Regions from separate parts of the Homo sapiens genome. Here region 2 is linked to region 1. Evidence: fine-mapped expression QTL. A gene starts in region 1. The other region holds a variant in brackets. All regions are shown on one strand. Distances are between the middles of the regions. Region 1 holds the start of LAMP2 (lysosomal associated membrane protein 2). Region 2 overlaps LAMP2 (lysosomal associated membrane protein 2).

Region 1 (10,577 bases):
CATGTTGGCCAGGCTGGTCTTGAACTCCTGACCTCAGGTGATCCACCCTCCTTGGCCTCCCAAAGTGCTAGGATTACAGGCATAAGCCACCATGCCCAGCCCTCCTTCATCTCTTAACCCCATTCCCCAGAGGACAGAGAGCCCCTGCTGAGAGTTTGAGATCTCATTACTCAGAATGTGGTCTCCAGACCAGCAGCATCAGATCACTAGGGAAGTTGCTAGAAATGCAGATTCTTGTGTCCTATCCCGGAGCTGTTGAACTTCACAGTGGGGCCTAGTAATCTGTGTTTTAATAAGCCCTCCAGTGGTTGTGATGCATAAACCATTTTGTTTTAGCAGATTGGATCAGATCTTTTGGCAGGGGAGGTTGAGAATACTACTGGCCAGGAGAACAAACAACTCAAAATGGCATGTTTCCATTTATCCAGAGAACTCTGGCTGAAGAGTTGGCAGCCCCTTGAGCCCACTGTGACCTCGCTGTGGGGTTGAGCGATGACCATACTGTCATCCAGACAGTAGATATTAAAGGTATTATCCAGAAAAAAGGGACATGCCAGAAGGAGAAAGGAAAAAGAGGGAGGGTAGGAGAAACTAAAAAAAGGATGAGTAGGGAAAGGAAAAATGGGGCAGATAAAAAGATAATGCAAATTTAAAAAGTAAAGATTTTTGGTGGCAAATAGATGACACCAATACCTCAGGGGCACTCATTTATTTATTTTTATTATTTATTATTATTATTTTTTGAGACAGGGTCCCACTTTGTCACCGAGGCTGGAGGGCAGTGGCGCGATCTTGGCTCACTGCAAACTTCGCCTCCCTGGTTCAAGCAATTTTTGAACCTCAGCCTCCCGAGTAGCTGGGTTTAAAGGCATGTGCCACCACACCCAGCTAATTTTTGTACTTTTTGCTAGAGATGGGGTTTCGCCATGTTGGCCAGGCTGGTCTTGAACTCCTGATCTCAAGTGATCCATCCCTCTTGGCCTCCCAAAGTGCTGGGATTACAGGCATGAGCCACCGTGCCCAGCCCATTTATTTAATAACTATTTATTATTCTTCCATTCTAAACTTCTGCACCTTTAAGTTCATTTCCTCTGCTCATCCCCACATTTCATTGTCTATCATTTACCAAATCTGATAGGGTCATCATTTCTTACACCATTCAGTATGTTGACATGTAGGGAAATGTTTGCCAATGATTTCCTGCTCTTTGGCCAAAAAGTCATGCACTCTCAAAGGTGCTGAAAAGAGTCTTAATCTACCTATGATGGTAGGGGACAGTGTGGGGGGACTGCTGAGGAGTTTGTGCACTGGGGTGGTATGAGGTATATTCAGGAGCGCACATAAAAGCACCCTAGATACAGCGGTACCAACAATCAAGTCAACCTTTGTGAAGCTTAGATCGGAGGGGATCTCACAGATTTCCTCAAACACTAACCCCAGTCTCACGTATACATCTGCATCTACCACCGAAAGCCAAGGAAAAGCTCCTTCAATCTGGGGCAGGGTAATGGGAGACTGTATAAGAAAAGGGATCTTTCTCACAGTGTTTTTTGGAGAAAACATTAAACATTTCTGAGTATGGAAGCTCAGTGCAAACAAAGACTTGAGAATTTTTAGCCTATTTATGCTGACAAAATACCCAGCATGTATCTACAACTTTCAAAACATTGTTGTGTCTCACGACGATGCCTGTCCCAGTCAAGGAGCCAGCATTTGTATTTGCCTGAGGAAAAGGTTGTGATGGGGGTGAGGGTGGATTTCGCTTGTAAGGCTGCTCATATTTCACTGTGTTTATTTTTTTAATTTGATGACACCTTCAAGAGATAAAGGGCGACAATTTATTACACCAGATATTTGACAAATTGGGACAGTATTTTATTTTATTTTAATTGTTAGAGACAGGGTCTCACTCATTTGCATAGGCTGGAGTGCAGTGGCGCCATCAAAGAGCACTGCAGCCTCAACCTCCTGGGCTCAAGCGACCCTCCCATCTCAGCCTCCCTGGTATCTGGGACTACAGGTGTGCACCACCATGGCTGGCTATCCTTATATATAAATATATACATATATTTTCAGAGACAGGGTCTTGCTCTGTCACCCAGGCTGGAGTGCAGTGGTGCAAACATGGCTCACTGCAGCCTCCACCTCCTGGACTTGAACAATCCTCTTGCCTCAGCCCCCAAGTAGCTGGGACTACAGGTGCACGCCACCACCCCCAGCTAATTTTTAATTTTTTGTAGAGATGGGGTTTCACCATGTTGGTCAGACTGGTCTCAAACTCCTGAGCTCAGGCAATCTGCCTGCTTTGGCTTCCCAAAGTGTTGGGATTACAGGTTTGAGCCACTGCACCTGGCCAATTTTAAATAAATGAGCATTTACTCACATAGAATCCTTGAATTATAAACCTGATGCCAACTTAGAGATCATCTGAGGCCCACCAATATTGTTTTGGGGAGTTTTGAGAAAAACACCATGCCCAGGCCTGACTTCAGATAAACTGAATCAGAATCTCAAGGGATGGGACCAAGGGGAATTTTCCACTTTTAAAGCTCCACAAGTGATTCCAACATGCAGCCAGGATCAAGAAACAGCTCTAGTCTCATTATTTCATTTTACCAATAAAGATATAGAAGTTCAAACAGATGAAGTGACCTGCCTAAGATCACACTGCCAGTAAGTGGTGTCTCACAACCAACTCCTCTGACTGCTAACCCAATGTTCTTTCCACTATGTTCTTTTTTTGTTTCTTCTTATAGAAAGAGCTTAGGGTTTTACTGAACATTAAAGTTATGCGATTTACAATTGAAAGAGAAGAGCTAGAGTCCAGGAAGTATTGGTGGGGCATCTTCAGAGGGCTCAACTCAGTTGTGGGTTCTCTGAAGACTACTATGCCCAGGACATAGCTCCTGCCAAGTCTCATTGATGGCAGTCAAAAGACATTTTGCTAAAGGCAATGACTAACACTGTATGCAGTGTTCATTAGTCTTGTGTTGGGTCACTTGTTCACAAATTAGTTTCACCTATGGTAGTAAACATTCATTGACAAATGTTCTCACTTTCAGGAATTAATTACATTAAAGCAAACAATAGTGGGGCAGATCGGTGCTTCTTAATATTTGAATTAGGGTAGGGGTTAGGGCAAGGAGTCACAGGTCCCATTGGAGAACTAGTGAAAACTACAAACTTCCCCACAAAAATACACATACATAAATGTTGCATGTAATTTCTGAGGATTCACCGACACCTCTCCCATCCTGTCTAAACTCATACATAAACTCCAGATTAAAATCTCCTGGACTAGATGATTTTGAAGCTCTCTTTCAGTGTTTTTCTCAAAGTGTGGTCCATGGACCACAGAATCAGAATCACTTGGGGTGTTTGTTAAAGAAGTGATTAATAAGACTGCCACAGACCTACTGTTTCAGAATCTCTGGGGAATGAGGTACAGGAATCTGTATGTTAAAAAAAAAAAACCCAAAACCAGATGGTTCTTTTGGAAACTAACACTTGAGAATCAGTGCTTTATTCCAACTCAAGATTTTTAAATGCTTTCATCTGTTGAATATTTTAGGTTTTGTCTGTTCATCTATCAAGTATAGCAAACAGTATGCTTAGTATGAACTCATTACAGAATATTTGTGTGTATGTACATAGGAAAAATATCTGGAAGTATAGATGTGGGTGTGTGTATATATGTGTGTAAATATATATAATAATGTTAATAGTAGGAATACAGATGATCTCTATTTTTCCGCTTTATCCTTCTGTTTTATTTCTCTCATTTTTTTCTTCCTGTGTTTAAAAAAGATGCTTCTTGTTTCTGAGCTCAATTCCCCCACCTGAGAACAGGGTGCTGTAACTAGGTGAATTTCAAGATCATGTCTTGTTCCGATGGTCCGTGACTCCATACTACCCCCTAGGTTCCCTCGTCCATCTCACAGCATGAACTGCATAGGTAACAACAGTGTTTGGAGAATAAGCATGTATTATTTTTGTATGTATTACGTTTGAGATGCCTAGCAACCGTTTTTGTGCCCGCAAAATTTTTCTCTTCTTTGTCAAGGAGCCAAAACGGAAATAGTCTACTATCTACGGCCCTCAAAAGTTCCTCCTCTCTCCTTAGCCTTAGAAAATACCGTCCGCCATAGGCATGGGCAAAGACCTCATGGCTAAAACACCAAAAGCAATCGCAACAAAAGTCAAAATTGACAAATGGGATCTAATTAAAAGAACTTCTGCACAGCAAAAGAAATTAGCATTAGCGTGAACAGGCAACCTGCAGAATGGGAGAAAATTTTTGCAATCTACCCATCTGACAAAGGTCTAATATCCAGAATCTACAAGGACCTTAAACAAATTTACAAGAAAAAAACAACCCCATCAAAAAGTGGGCAAAGGATATGACCAGACACTTCTCAAAAAAAGACATTTATGCAGCAACAAACATGAAAAAAAGCTCATTATCACTGATCATTAGAGAAAGGCAAATCAAAACCACAATGAGATACCATCTCACGCCAGTCAGAATGGTGATTATTAAAAAATCAGGAAACAATAGATGCTGGCGAGGCTGAGGAAAAATAGGAATGCTTTTACACTGTTGGTGGGAGTGTAAATTAGTTCAACTATTGTGGCAGACAGTGTGGCGATTCCTCAAAAATCTAGAACCAGAAATACCATTTGACGCATGCACACGTATGTTTATTGCAGCACTATTTACAATAGCAAAGACTTGGAACCAACCCAAATGCCCATCAATGATAGACTAGATAAAGAAAACGTGGCACATATATGCCATGGAATACTATGCAGCCATAAAAAAATGAGATCATGTCCTTTGCAGGGACATGGATGAAGCTGGAAGCCATCATCCTTAGCAAACTAACACAGGAACAGAAAACAAAACACTGCATGTTCTCACTCATAAGTGGGAGTTGAACAATGAGAACACATGGACACAGGGAGGGGAACAACACACACGGGGGCCTGTCAAGGGGTGGGGGCCAAGGGGAGGGAGAGCATTAGGAGAAATACCTAATGCATGTGGGGCTTAAAACCTAGATGACGGGTTGATAGGTGCAGTAAACCACCATGGCACATGTATACCTATGTAACAAAGCTGCACATTCTGCACATGTATCCCAGAACTTAAAGTAAAATTAAAAAAAAAAAAAAAAAAGAAAGAAAAAGAAAAAGAAAATGCCGTCCGCGCATATCTCTCAGGAGCATAGGAAGGGCTGTGAACCAAAAAGCCAGGGCGTGGTCGCCCCGCCCACCGGCCGCTACATCACCACCCCTCTCGCCGCTTTCAAGCGCGGAGATTGGCTGTAAGCAAGAAAGAGCCCCGCCCCTAGTCTTATGACTCGCACTGAAGCGCCGATTCCTGGCTTTTGCAAGGCTGTGGTCGGTGGTCATCAGTGCTCTTGACCCAGGTCCAGCGAGCCTTTTCCCTGGTGTTGCAGCTGTTGTTGTACCGCCGCCGTCGCCGCCGTCGCCGCCTGCTCTGCGGGGTCATGGTGTGCTTCCGCCTCTTCCCGGTTCCGGGCTCAGGGCTCGTTCTGGTCTGCCTAGTCCTGGGTGAGTTGTCGGGCCCTCCCGATTAGTCTGTCCGCCTGGGCCCGGGGCACCAGTTCAAAGCTACAACCTGAAAGACTGGTCCGAGGGGGAGGGGGTTGAGAGGCTCAGCAGCTAACACTGGGCGGCGGCGGTTGGCCCGGGGAGGCAAGCGGTGACCTAGAGAAGGCCTGACCGACGGATGGCGGGGAAGAAGGGCCCAGGAGAGTAAGAAGGGGCCGGTAACGGGGGGTGGACGCCGAGGGAGTAGGCTGGGAGGAGTGAAGCGTGGAGAGGGTCAGCGTGGAAAGAGTAACTTGGGGAAAACACTGAGGAGTGAGCGTAGGAGGGTGGTACATGCAGATTTTGGGCGCCAGAGACAATTAGGAGAGTCTTGGTTTGCTGAGATCAGGGAAGAGTTTTGAAGATGGTGGAAAAACTATGGGGTGAGATAGGAAATTAAGAGAGAAGACCATGCCTGCCTGGAGTAGCTTGGGAGAAGTGTGTGGGTGGGGGACAGATGGGACAGATAGGACAGTAGAGCCTGAGGGGCAGGGGCAGTGACAGGGTTGGGCATTTTGAAGGTTGGAATTTGAGACTGTGAAGAAAGGATGATTCAAGAGATTAGGAGTGATGCTGGGTTTGAGTTTGGTAGTCATAGTTTTAAGGGCGAAGGAACCTAAGGTAGCTGGGGCAATTTCCAGGAAAGAAAACTTGGACCCAACCTCTGGAGACTAAGGGGTTCAGGGGGAACTTTGATGGGGAGTGCACATCTGACTTGGAGGTATTGAGGATGTCGATTTTCTCCCAGTTTTGCTACTTCCTCCCAGCCAGACGCTGACAAAAAAATCCCCAGACGTTTCAGTTAGGAGGGCCTCCCAGATGTGAGGTTTTGGGGGTGGAGTATTTGAGTTTGGTAGACTACCTCTTTGCCTTCAGAGTTTCTTCTTTTCTTTCTTCCCCATCACACAGCTAGCCTATTACCTCATATTTTGGGGGTGCAGGGAGCAGGTAGACAAACTTGCTAAGGATTGGGTTGTTACCAGGGCCTAAGAATGGCTGGATGGGGCCGGGCGTGGTGGCTCATGCCTGTAATCCCAGCACTTTGGGAGGCCGAGGTGGGTGTATCACCTGAGGTCAGGAATTCAAGACCAGCCTGGCCAACATGGTGAAACCCCGTCTCTACTAAAAATACAAAAATTAGCCGGGCGTCGTGGCACATGCCTGTAATCCCAGCTGCTTGGGCGGCTGAGGCAGGAGAATCGCTTGAACCCAGAAGGCGGAGGTTGCAGTGAGCCAAGATTGCGCCATTGCACTCCAGCCTGGGCGACAAGAGTGAAACTCTGTCTCAAAAAATAAAAATAAATAAATCAATAAATAAATGGCTGGGTGAATGTTCGCTGATTGTGTTGTGCCCTAATAGGCAGTGGGTCGCTAACAACTTTAATGCCTAAAAGTGAACTTTGACTAAAGTGTCTCTTCCTGACTTTGATTCATGCTGTGCTTGTTGCTACCCACCTGCTCTTGCTATTTGTGACTTAATAAAATAACATAAAGAACAGACCCAGATGGGAGTGGGGAAGAAATAGACATATTAGGGGTCTGAGAAAGCAGTGAGAGGTATACATTTTGTAATTCACATTTCAGTAGAATGAAATCAACACCCTGGAATAGTGATTCTCAACCAGGGGACATTTGGCAACATCTGGAGACATTTTTGGTTGTAACAACTGGGGGATTGCTTTTAGCATCTAGTGGGTAGAGGCCAAGGATGCTGCTAAACATCCTAACTAAGCACAGGGCAGCCCCTGACAACAAAGAATCATCTCCCTGAAAATGTCAATGGTGCCAACATTGATAAATCCTGCTCGAAAACCATAGTATTGGAAGGGTTCTTGATTATCTAATTCAGTGACTCTCGAGGACCTTTTCATGCGTCTGTGAAATCAAAACTTCGGAATAAGGTTAAGAAGGTATTTGTCCTTTTCTGCTGGGCACAGTGGCTCACGCCTGTAATCCCAGCACTTTGGGAGGCTGAGGCGGGCGGATCACCTGAGATCAGGAGTTCAAGACCAGCCTGACCAACATGGTGAAACCCAGTCTCTACTAAAAATAGAAAAATTAGCCGGTGTCGTGGCACATGCCTGTAATCCCAGCTACTTGGGAGGCCGAGGCAGGAGAATCGCTTGAACCCAGGAGGCGGAGGTTGCGGTGAGCCAAGATTGCGCCACTGCATTCCAGCCTGGGCAACATGAGCGAAACTCTGTCTCAAAAAAAAAAAAAAAAAAAGAAGTTATTTGTCCTTTGTCCTTTTCACTCTCATCCTCTCACCAGTGTACAGCAGAGTTTTCCAGTGGCTACGTAACATGTGATGACCTCACCACTCTGATGTTCTTATATTTTATTCATTTCTCAGTTTTAATTTCTAATACTGTAAATACCAATACATATGACTCACATAAACCTCTGTGAAGTCCTCAGTGGATAAGAAAGTAAAGGGGTCCTGACACCAAAACTTTGGGAATCCCTGATGTAGTCCAACTGTTCACAGCGCGCAGGAAACTCTTCTGTAGCACTTCTGAAAGGCGGCCTTGAGGCAGGCTTTGCTTGAATACTTAATTGGAAGCCTTAACTGTACCTTGGAGCACTTACTGAGGGCCAACTGACCCTAAGAAAGGATTGTTTACAATGGAAAGTACCTTATCAGTGACTAGAACACATCTGACCAAGGCATCTGTTAATCAGTAGTTCCCTGCCAATTGAATCTGTGCACAAATACAACACTGTTATTGTTTTGGGAAAGTGAAAAAAATAATAGTTGTCCTACTTGTTGGCTTTCATGTCATTAAATTTTTTTTTGTTTTTTAATGAAAGCTTTTTTGTTTTGTTTTTACAAAAGCAATGCTTACTCACTGCAGAAAATAAACATGCAAAAAGAAGCACATAAAAGAACCCATCAGCTCATCTGCTAGTTTGCCATTTATTGATCAGGACTAACTAGATTCTTCCTCTTGGAAAATTTCCAAGATTGATTCCCTCCGCCTCCAAGTTCAGAGCAGGATTTGGAAAAGTAAATATTAATAATGTACCTAGATCTGATTTTTAAGAGGTTCCAGGATGAAATAGAAACCATTTTTCTATACAGCTGCATTTTCTGATGGCTCTTGGTTCAGTGTGGAGCCCAAAGTCCTCCCATATAGCTTTTTCTGTCAAGAATTTAGCAGTTGCTTGGTGGGTTTTGCACAAGTTACTTTTCTATATCAAAATGGATACCAATAATAGGTTTTTGAAAACTTAATAAATATTTGTAAAGTACCTAATATGTAGCTAAATCAATAAATATTTGTAAAGTACCTACTATGTAGCTAGAACTGTGCCTGGGTACTGTACGGAGTGCCAATGAAGGAGGACCTGTCCTAAATTTATAGTCTTATTAGCATTAGTGCTCTAGCTGTGCCAGTTTGACTTTGTAACTTTATAACTCTATCCCAGCTTCACCCATAACCTTTTAAAAACAGCAGCTTTAGAATAAGTACAGAAAAGGATTCTTAGAGGCTATATATTGGTCTTTTTCATAGAGATTAAATTATGCTGGTGTTTATTTGGATGAATTGTAACTGACCAGACAACTTTCCGAAGAGAAGCTATATGATTTAGAGGTGTTATAAAGTGGATAGTGGGTGAAAATCCTTTCTTTATATAATTGCCTAATTATGGTCCTTTTGTGATATCATAGATTTCAGGATTCTTCTGTGGTTATTGATTCTTATAACTAGCTTGACTTCTGTTTTTTGGTTTGTTTGTTTGTTTTTTTAGGGTTCAGAATTTTTTTTTTTTAGGTTTGAGGCTTTTCTGGGTGGGAAAAACCTCACAGAAATATTCTTAGTGTATGTTACTGGTAGGAGCCTCTCCCTTCCACACGTTTACTGAATGCCTATTGTGTCCCAGCCACTATATTAGGTGAAAGGGACAGAGGAATGGATAAGACAGATGAGGTTCCTGCTCTCATGGAGCTTACATTTTAATGGGAGAAGAAAGCTCAACAGATAAATAATATAATGTCAGATAGTGATAAACACTATGAAGAGGCCGGGCATGGTGGCTCACGCCTGTAATCCCAGCACTTTGGGAGGTCAAGGTGGGCAAATCACCTGAGGTCAGGAGTTCGAGACCAGCCTAGCCAACATGGTGAAACCCCATCTCTACTAAAAATACAAGGGCATGGTGGCCAGCACCTGTAGTCCCAGCTACTCGGGAGGCTGAGGCAGGAGAATTGCTTGAATCCAGGAGGTGGAAGTTGCAGTGAGCCGAGATCATGCCACTGTCCTCCAGCCTGGGGGACAAGAGCAAAACTCTGTCTCAAAACAAAACAAAACAAAAACACTATGAAGAAAATTACACAGGTAATGAGAAAGGAGAATGAGTAGATGATAGGAATGGGTGATGGTGGATGATCCTTCTTTATATTATGTGGTCAGAGGGCCTTCCGTTATCGGGTGACATTTGGGCAGAGACCTGGGTGTTGGCAGGAGGCCAGCCATGTGACCATCTGGGGAAATAGGAATAAATCTTATCATTTGCAAAATCTTAGGTTACTAGCCTATTTTCCACGCTTTTTTGTTTCCCCCTAGTTTTAGTCAAGTCTCTCCTATGGTAGCAGTCTCTAAGAGCAGAGACGATCTTATGTACTGTTACTTCCCATTGCCTACCTAGCATAGGGTCTGGTACATGGTTAACCCGTAGTGAATTTTTGTTGAAGATATTCATTGGTGGGCACTAGGGATATGGTGGTAAACTAGACTCATTTAGTCTCCTTTTTCTTCCATGAATTTTAAATGATGTTTTGCAAGAAGTTCTTTTGGATTGAAAACTTCAAGATCAGTGCTAAGCAGTACGGATAATTATACAGTAATTTACTAATGTATAATCCCATATAATAATGCTAGTTTCTTACCTGTACTCCTTCAGATATACCTCCGTAGTCTCGAAGGGGGTAATATGGAGAATTAGGAGTTCCTTGGTGA
Region 2 (8,963 bases), 32 kb after region 1:
GCAACTCTATATTTGGCTCATCATTTTGCTCAACCGAGATGTTTTTGTGATCTTAAAATCATTTGCAAAAAAAGTTCTTAAAGCTAAAACTGATAGAAGCTTTAAGTGAGCTTTATTTGAGGTATGGGTTTTAGTTTGTAGGGAAGATGGCACTTGGGAGCAGCAGCTTTGAGCATCTTGCATCTGCTTCCTGAGGCCGTCTTCTCACTGGAAACATTTTCATACCTGAATGAAAGCAGTTTGGTCTGATTTTGTTAAGACAAAAGATAAAGAGCGGTAGCAAAGCCTCAAATATCATGAACTATGTTTTTACCAGCCAAAACGATCTGGAGAGTTTTCAAAGCATGTGCCAGTGTGAATGACGCTTTTTGAAGATCACTCAGGGATAATGGTGGTATTTATTAGATTTTTAATGAAACCTTTTGAAGGGCTCATTATAATGTGTTCATACGAATATGAAAGACATATTTGGCATTACAAGATTAAAATTTGCATGAAGAAAAAAAGCACATAAAATTCCTTAATTGACTTGTCCTTTTAAGCCTATTACCTAAAATTGGGGGTTTGTGGATCACAACTCTGTTGAGCAGAGCTAGCTATTCCAGGCATCCACATCCTTTTCAACCATTAATTCTATGGTTTGGAAGGAAATGTGGAAGCTGTGTTTAAAAGCGAATATACTGTGAGCCATTCGACTACTTTTGCAGTGGTGTTGAATACCTAGTCTGACTTGGTTAGGCCACAATAAATTGGGCTCTCCACCCTACCATTCTTGCGATTAAAGACGTTAGTTACACTTTAAAAATATTTTCAAGAATTCATTTTCCCTTTTGTCTGTTTTGCTTATGTACTTCAATTATTTTGATCCTTTAGTAGCTTTATTTTTGGACTTTTTATCTGGCTCCCCTTCATTATTCCCCTAATTTTAAGTCCAGATTTGTGTTTACAGTTTAAAATCGTTTGCAGTATTAGTATCATCACTTCAAGACTGTTTATCTAGTCACCTGTAATAGAGATGAGCTGTGCTCTTTCTCTTACTTTGAAACTTTGGTTTTTATGTACATAGAATTAAAAATATCACCCAAAGAGATATACAGCATTTAATACTGATATTGAATGTATAATCTATTTGTGGAACTAGGTTCTTGGCTGTGGGTACCTATAAATACAACACATAGGTAATATTTGACTGTATGGGGAAAGAAATAGAATTGCAATAAGGCAGAAGAGTGTTGATTGGATTTTACTGGATCAGACCACTTTCTAGAAGTAGAAAAAAATAGCCCCCTTAGGCTGCCAACCCTGACCAGATAAGAAATGCAGTAAGCACGCTCAAATTAGTAAGAGGTCCCAGTTTTCTTGACTTTGCAGCCACTAAAATTGTATGTACTAAGTCACGATCTGCAAACTTTAAAGTTCCAAACAGTGAGTGTTTTAGGCTTTGGTGCCATATGGTCTCTGTCACAACTATTTGACCCTGCTATTGTAGCACGAAAACAGCAACACATAAACAGATGACTGTGGCTGGGTTCCAATAAAACCTTATTTATGGACACTGGAATTTGAATTTTATATGCTCTCATGTGTCACAAAATATTTTTTTCAACCATTTAAAAATGTAAAGGCCATTTTTAGCTCTTGGACCAGATCTGGCCCATGGGCTACAGCTTGCTGACCCCTGACCCTAAAGACAGAGCCAGCCTGGCTATTCTCATCACATGATACCTTCCTGATCCTGTTTCCACTTTCCCAAAAGACATTCACTCTACCACTGAGAGGCTAATCTGGCTATGTAAAAGTGGGCTAGATTAGCTCCCTTTATTTCTGATAAAGTAATATGCCTATTTTGGAAAGGACTTGGAATATAAACAAACATATATGTGTGTATGTATATGTATATGCACACATATATATCACATATAAAATATATATCATATATATAATGTGTGCATTATATATCATATATAATGTGCATATATTATATATATGCACACATATACAATGTGCATATAATATATGCACATTACAATATGAGCTGTGTTTATAGATGTAAATGAATATACATGTATTCATATATATGAATATCTGCATATATACACATAAACAAATGAAAGGACAAAGAAAGTCTTAGAATTTTAATTCTAGAACAGTTCTCCATTTTCTATAGCTTTATCATAAAAATATACCTGTCTTAGTTACTTGAAGTTGATCTTGTAAGAACATTTCTGACTTTTAAATCAACATCTTTGACTTCGAGACATTCTTTTGTGATTATACTCATTATTTATTACACACTTTTTCTCACCTACAGCCCAAGAGTGTTCGCTGGATGATGACACCATTCTAATCCCAATTATAGTTGGTGCTGGTCTTTCAGGCTTGATTATCGTTATAGTGATTGCTTACGTAATTGGCAGAAGAAAAAGTTATGCTGGATATCAGACTCTGTAACACTAATCAATACGTGATCTCTGTTACAAAAGAAAAAAGCAAGTACAAGTTCCAACATGCAATACTGGTCAACTTAAGGTATATTTAGTTGCAGTCCAGCTCTTTAGAATGGGTGGTATGGGGGATTTCAAACTTAAACAAAAAACTATCAACTACAAATTAGTTGCCTGACTTTGGTTTTTCCAACCAAGGAATTTAAAACTGTTATTTTTACAGCAAAAGATGTGCAAAATCACTGGATTATAAGTTCTATTTTACTGTCTTGAATTAGTATTTCAGTGTTTTCATTTTAGACATTCAGACTAAAAATACACCGTTTAGAAAAAACAATTTTTGAAAAAGAGATTTTTTTTCCCTGCAGGTAGTTGAGTTGGAACAACATGTTCTACCGTGGATTTGTACTTGCTCCTTTTGCTCTTTTTGTGTGTGTGTGTGTGTGTGTGTGTGTGTGTGTGTGTGTGATTTTTGTTTGCAGGTTAACTTAGCTACTTTGGCATTGCTGCATATTTGACCTTTGAGAGATATAATAGTAGATTTGAACAGGGGCTGGTATTATTATGTTCTTAGCAATAAATGCTTTTCTAATGCCTTTTGAATACATTTGTATTTATGTGGCTGTAATGACAAAAGATACAAAAGCTTTTTAAAATTTAGAGTAGGTATTAATCTTATTGTTTAATCTTTTTTTTAAAAAAACTGGATATTTCAATCTTTTAAATTGCAATATATAAGACTATTCCAACTGGGCATTTCAATCCATTTTTTAGGTGCTTTAGAGATAATTGCTTGCCAGTGCCAATTGAGGGCATTAGTACTTTGTGCTCATAAATTGGCCTCTGTATGCAGTACTAAAATTAATGCAGATTTCTCTTTAGCCTTCCAACATTTCTTGTTGATAGTGATGTATTTTATTATTTTCTTTTTCTTAAGAAATGCCAGTGTGTCCTAGAACCTAGATAACGAAGTGCACTTACACTTATAAAATAACTTGCATCTAGGCTGGGCGTGGCGGCTCACGCCTGTAATCCCAGCACTTTGGGAGGCCGAAGTGGGTGGATCACTTGAGGCCAGGAGTTTGAGACCAGCCTGGCCAACATGGTGAAACCCCATCTCTATCAGAAATACAAAAAATTAGCTGGGCGTGGTGGTGGGCGCCTGTAATCCCAGTTACTCGGGAGGCTGAGGCAGGAGAATCACTTGAACCCGGGAGGCAGAGGTTGCGGTGAGCCAAGAGCGCACCATTGCACTCCAGCCTGGGCGACAAAAACGAAACTCCATCTCAAAACAAAACAAAACAAAACAAACAAACAAACAAAACTTGCATCTAACCAAAAAGTCTTGGTTTTATCTTAATCCATTAAAAAGTTGTTCTTTGTTTCCAGCTTGCATTGATTGCTACAACATCACTAATTTGGCTTTCACATTTAAATGGTTCTGTGCTAATCAAAACTTTCGTTGTTATTATTC[A/G]TTATGGTAGAATCATTTTTAATTCACGTGCTTTGTGTTCAGTTTTGTGGTCTGAGAGATGTACCAATTGTCAAATTACCGTGTACCACCTAATGTTTATAGGAGAAAGCAAAATACATCAGCTTGGTAGTTAACACATCAAATATTTCTTGCTGCTTCTAGGAGAACTTTTTTGGTGTGTGTTGGAATGGCTGAGCAAATATTAAAATTGTTAATATGCAGCCATATATGGAAGGTTCCTGTGGGGTTGTTTTTTCGTGTTTTTTTTTTTTTTGTGGTGGGATTATGTGCCTCCCATTCACTAGAAAATGAGAAAATTGTCTGGGTTCCAAAATATTGACATTGAATGGATCAATACACACACACAGACATATATATATATATGCACACATATATAGGCAGTTGCATGCTAGCATGGGTATTTTTATAACAATATAACTGAGTTATATTGGAATTATAAATATTTTCCGTCACTTAAATTTGTTCTTTGTTTAGCCTGAAAACCTTTATGGCTCAAGATCAGATTCCTGACTAACCCCTCTCTTAGAGCTACAGCGAGCTGCATTACCAGCTTAAAACACTTCTTAGGGATTAAATATAGATGTAATTTTTCAAAATCGTTTTTAATTTAAACTGTGTTTTAGTGTAAAATTGTTAACCTTGTAAGATGGATAATGTGTATAAGAATGTAGGCCTTAACTATTTCACATGAGTCAAAACAAAGCAGCTTTAAAAAAATAATTGGAAGCACAAGTGCATGGCACTGACTGAATGCTGTTAATATTTCTAAAAGTTTCTACATTCAGATTATATGCCTGATTCATAGTAAAATACCTCTAATAAACACTGTTTTATAGAAAACCTGACTTCAGTGAATATTTTTGTATTTTACATGGGCCAGTTTATATACTGCTATTTACACTATTATTTCCTATAGCTACATGTTCTTTGTACCTTTTGTAGTTTTATTTGTATTACTAGATTCATACCTTGATGGTAACGCTCTATCTGGTTTTGGGTGTTTTTCATGTTTTAGCATTTGTATAAAGAAACTGGTCCATGTAAATACTTTCCATGTTTTTTCTTCAAATGTTTAAACCACTAGTTGATGTATGGTATCTTTAGATATTTGCCTGTCTGTTTGCTCAAAATTGCTTCTAAAACAATAAAGATTCTTTTATTTCTTAAGGCAATTTGCTTACCTTTTTTCCCGTTGGTTAAAGTCAAGATTTTGTATACTACATAATGGCAATTTCTTTCAAATGGAAAAACTTTAGAAATGTTTAGAAGTAGAACTGAATTATTTGCAAAATGTTCTGATGTTCTGTCTGTATATTACCATCTGGAAGAATAGTCCCATACATAGGCCTCGATTGATGCTAGGCAGGCTACAGAATAAGATCAACCTGGGAAGCGTTTTATAAAAATAGATTCCAGGCTGCATCCTTAGAGGATTTAACGTAGTAGGTCTAATGAGGAGACAGAGAGAGAGAGAGACAGAGAGAGAGAGAGAGAGTGTGTGTGTGTGTGTGTGTGTGTGTGTGTGTGTGTGTGTGTAAGCTCCCCTGCTGAACCTGATGCATAGTCAGTTAGGGAACCAGTGATCTAGAATATTTATTTCATAATAAAAGCTGCGGAGTATCTCTTTGTACACTTTTCTCAATTCCTAAGTTGAGGTTGATATTCAATATCTCTACATAGTAGCTTTACATTGCAGCCATACATATTGAGCTATTGATCTGAACCAACGTAGGATTGTGTGCAGTCTCTCTCTTACTTAGATCACTCTAAAATACTTGAGCCTTCCAGTTTCCATATACGGATAGTTACCTAGTCACCTTACTATATCACATAAGAAAACTTAGCAATGTAGCTGGTAACTTTTCTCTGAATTACCCAGTTAAGCCATGTGAATGCCAGTTAGTCATCACGGCTGCAAACTCTGCAGTTAACTACCATTGTCTTTGGCCAAGTTGTTTAACTTCTAGTGTCTCAATTTCTTCATCCAGTGGGTGGGGGCTTTAAAATCCTGCTACTCATTTCTTTGAGTGATAATTTGCATTTCAGAGGAATGCATCATAGTATTTCATACATCTTAGTATTTTAGAAGGAATCTGATAAGCTACTTGTTACGTATCAAGAACATACTATAAGTTCAGTGTAAAATGTACCACTTAAGTTTCCTGCAGTTTTTCAGGAGGAATTCTTATAAGACTTGGACATTTTTAAGATGATAGTATTTCATCTGTTTATTTAGGTAGATAATGTTAAATTGTCTTGGGCTCATCTTCCACCCATCTCCTTTTCTTTTACCCTGGTAGCTAACTTTCTGCGTTAATAATCACCATTTCTTGTATTTGAAACTGGTATAGATATTCATGAATGATATTGAGTAGCTTCACGAATCTTTTCAGATGCATGTGATTTACTTAACACAGTTTGATTATAGATATAAAATGTATATAACAAAATATCACCTAAGAATGTGCTTCTTAATGTGGATCCTTCCAAAAAGAAGTTTTGACTCGTTTGTTTGTTTGTTTTGTTTTGTTTGAGATGGAGTCTCGCTCTGTTGCCCAGGCTTGGGTGTGTATAGTGGTGTGATCTCAGCTCACTGCAACCTCCGCCTCCCAGGTTCAAGCAATTCTTATGCCTCAGCCTCCCAAGTAGCTGGGATTACAGACGAGTGCCACCACACCTGGCTACCTTTTTATTTTTTTAGTAGAGATGGGGTTTTGCCATGTTGGCCAGGCTGGTCTCGAATTCCTGACCTCAAGTGATCTGCCTACCTCGACCTCCTGAACTGCTGTTATTATAGGCATGAAACGCTGTGCCTGGCCTCAACTGGTTTTTAAGAGAAGTTTTATTAGTTTTTGTTGTAAATGTATACCTCAGCTTTCCAGTTCTTGTGTTGAAAATTGTGTTTGAAAAATGTCTGAACTGGCAGAAAATTGAAGATTAACAGCATTTTTAATCTACATGAAACTTCTTACTGAAATTTTAGTGGCCATGGAACTTTTTAATCTTTAAAAATCTTTATTGCTTCTGTGGCTATTAAATTCTTCTGCAAATACACTTCTCTTTTCCCCAGAAGCATTTTCAATACAGCGTTAAGTATACATTAGGCAAGTAGATCAGATCAAAATGACTTATAGGATGAGATTTTCTTTTCTTCAGAATGTGATCCCATTAAAGTTACTGTTTTACCAACATTTTTTCCATTAACTAAATAATTTTTAAAGGTTGAATTCATACAATCAATAGTTATTATAAATTAATATTTCACATACTAATTGAGAGCATTTTAAGTAAATGACAGTATCTAGAAAGATCTTTGTATTAGCGGAATTGCCTTTTTGAGCTACTCTGAGAATATTTGTCTTACATGAAAGCCTTATTGGCAGTATTTATGAAAGTCGTTTCAGTACTAGGTCAAATACCCAATTTGGGAAAGAGAGAACTATGAGTCTGTTGCCAGAATAAGAAATTAATCTACTAATGAATTTTTAAAAAACCAAGTTATATTAAACCCACGGCATAATACTTTATGGTACATGTCACCTAATAGTTTATGGGCTGGGTGGTAATTTGGGAAATTGTAGGGGAGGTGCTAACTGGGGATTCTTAACACCATCTATTCACAGGTCACATCTGGCAGCCTCAGCTCTCTGGATTCTTAACAGAACCAAGAAGCAAGTAAAACAAATAATTGAACTGGCAGCCCAAGTCAATGTCAGAAAAGTTTATAAACTCCAGGGTTGCATTTTGTTCCTAGTTATTGCCCCAGAGGCTAGTGGGGGCGGCGGGGAAAGCTTGGCACATTTCTTGAATGCAAGCACAATCAGAATTGCCATGCAGCCTATTTGTCCTATCTTTGATACAATTCTAATAAGCTTAGTTATCTGATTTATCAGTCCCTGGTAGACTGCAAGCTAGGCAGAGAACTAGGGCAACAAGACACAGGAAATGGGAAATAGAAATAGCAGTTAACTTCTTTCCTGCAAGTGTATCCATCTGTAGCATTCCTTCCTCCTCTCCAGTCTCAGAGTAGGTTTTCTTTTCCTGGTTAAACTGAGGCAAACAGTTATGTCATCAAGGCCCATTTATATCTCTTTTCCCATTACTAAGTGACCCCAGATTGTTATGTATTGAGTTCTTAATGTCTTACGCTTTTGGAATTCAATCTCTTAACTTGTAGGAGAACTTGTACCATTCAGCATCTTCTGTCAATTGCTAATGGCTGTTTCCCTCATCCTATTTAAGTTCTTCTAACCTTAAGCTATCCTTTCTTGTCCCTATGTCCCCCTTCTAATTACCTCCCTTTTGTCCTGCCTTAATCATTCTAAACTTCTCAAAATGAGTATTGTATTTGTTACCCTGCCCAAGTTCTTGATGTCCTAACCAATCACTTCCCATTCCCTCTTAAACCTGCAGCAATTTTACTCATATCTCCCACCCTTCATATTGCTAGAGGCAATGGACATGTTTCAAAGCTTTCTACTATTATTTGCTGTCTTTCCACCTTAATTGAAACGTTCCATCCTTAGCTTCTCTGGCGCCATTTTCTATCTGCCCTTTTACATCTTTTTCCTACTCCATTGTCTATCCCACAGGTATTGGTGTTCCCAAGGGTTTTTGTCTCTGATCCTCTTTTTATTCTACTTCCCCTTACTGAGAAATGTTCTTGCCCATGTTTTAACTACCACTTAGGTTCATATAGCCACTTGGTTAGGACATAGTGATTTTTTTTTTTTTTTTGAGATGGGTTCTCGATATGCTGCCCAGGCTGGTCTTGAACTCCTGGGCTCAAACAGTTCTCCCATCTCAGCTTCCCAAGTAGCTAGGACTACAGGCGTAAGCTACCATGCTCAACTAAGGACACAGATATCTTAAACTCACATATCTAAAACTGAGCATCTCTCTCTTCCACGTATCCTTTTTACCACCTGTTCCATATAACTACAAAAAACTGAAATGCATATATTCTTCCTCTTTTATAGAATGGCACCAGCATCTACATAATCAGTCAAGTGTGGAATTGGAAA

The links. PIP is the estimated chance that this variant, and not a neighbour inherited with it, causes the effect.
Region 2: its variant is fine-mapped to the expression of LAMP2 in whole blood (TOPMed, PIP above 0.99).

The regions. Positions count from the first base shown.
Region 1 is chrX:120,464,106-120,474,682 of GRCh38, reverse strand. LAMP2 (lysosomal associated membrane protein 2) reads left to right here and starts at 5,387. Exons shown (of 9, transcript NM_002294.3): 1 at 5,387-5,577. The coding sequence starts at 5,514. RefSeq lists a silencer at 5,185-5,449.
Region 2 is chrX:120,432,642-120,441,604 of GRCh38, reverse strand. The region is part of intron 8 of LAMP2 (lysosomal associated membrane protein 2); the gene reads left to right. Among named protein-coding and RNA genes, the nearest start is that of LAMP2, 32 kb to the left of the region's middle. The variant A/G (reference allele first, on the strand shown) is at 3,919.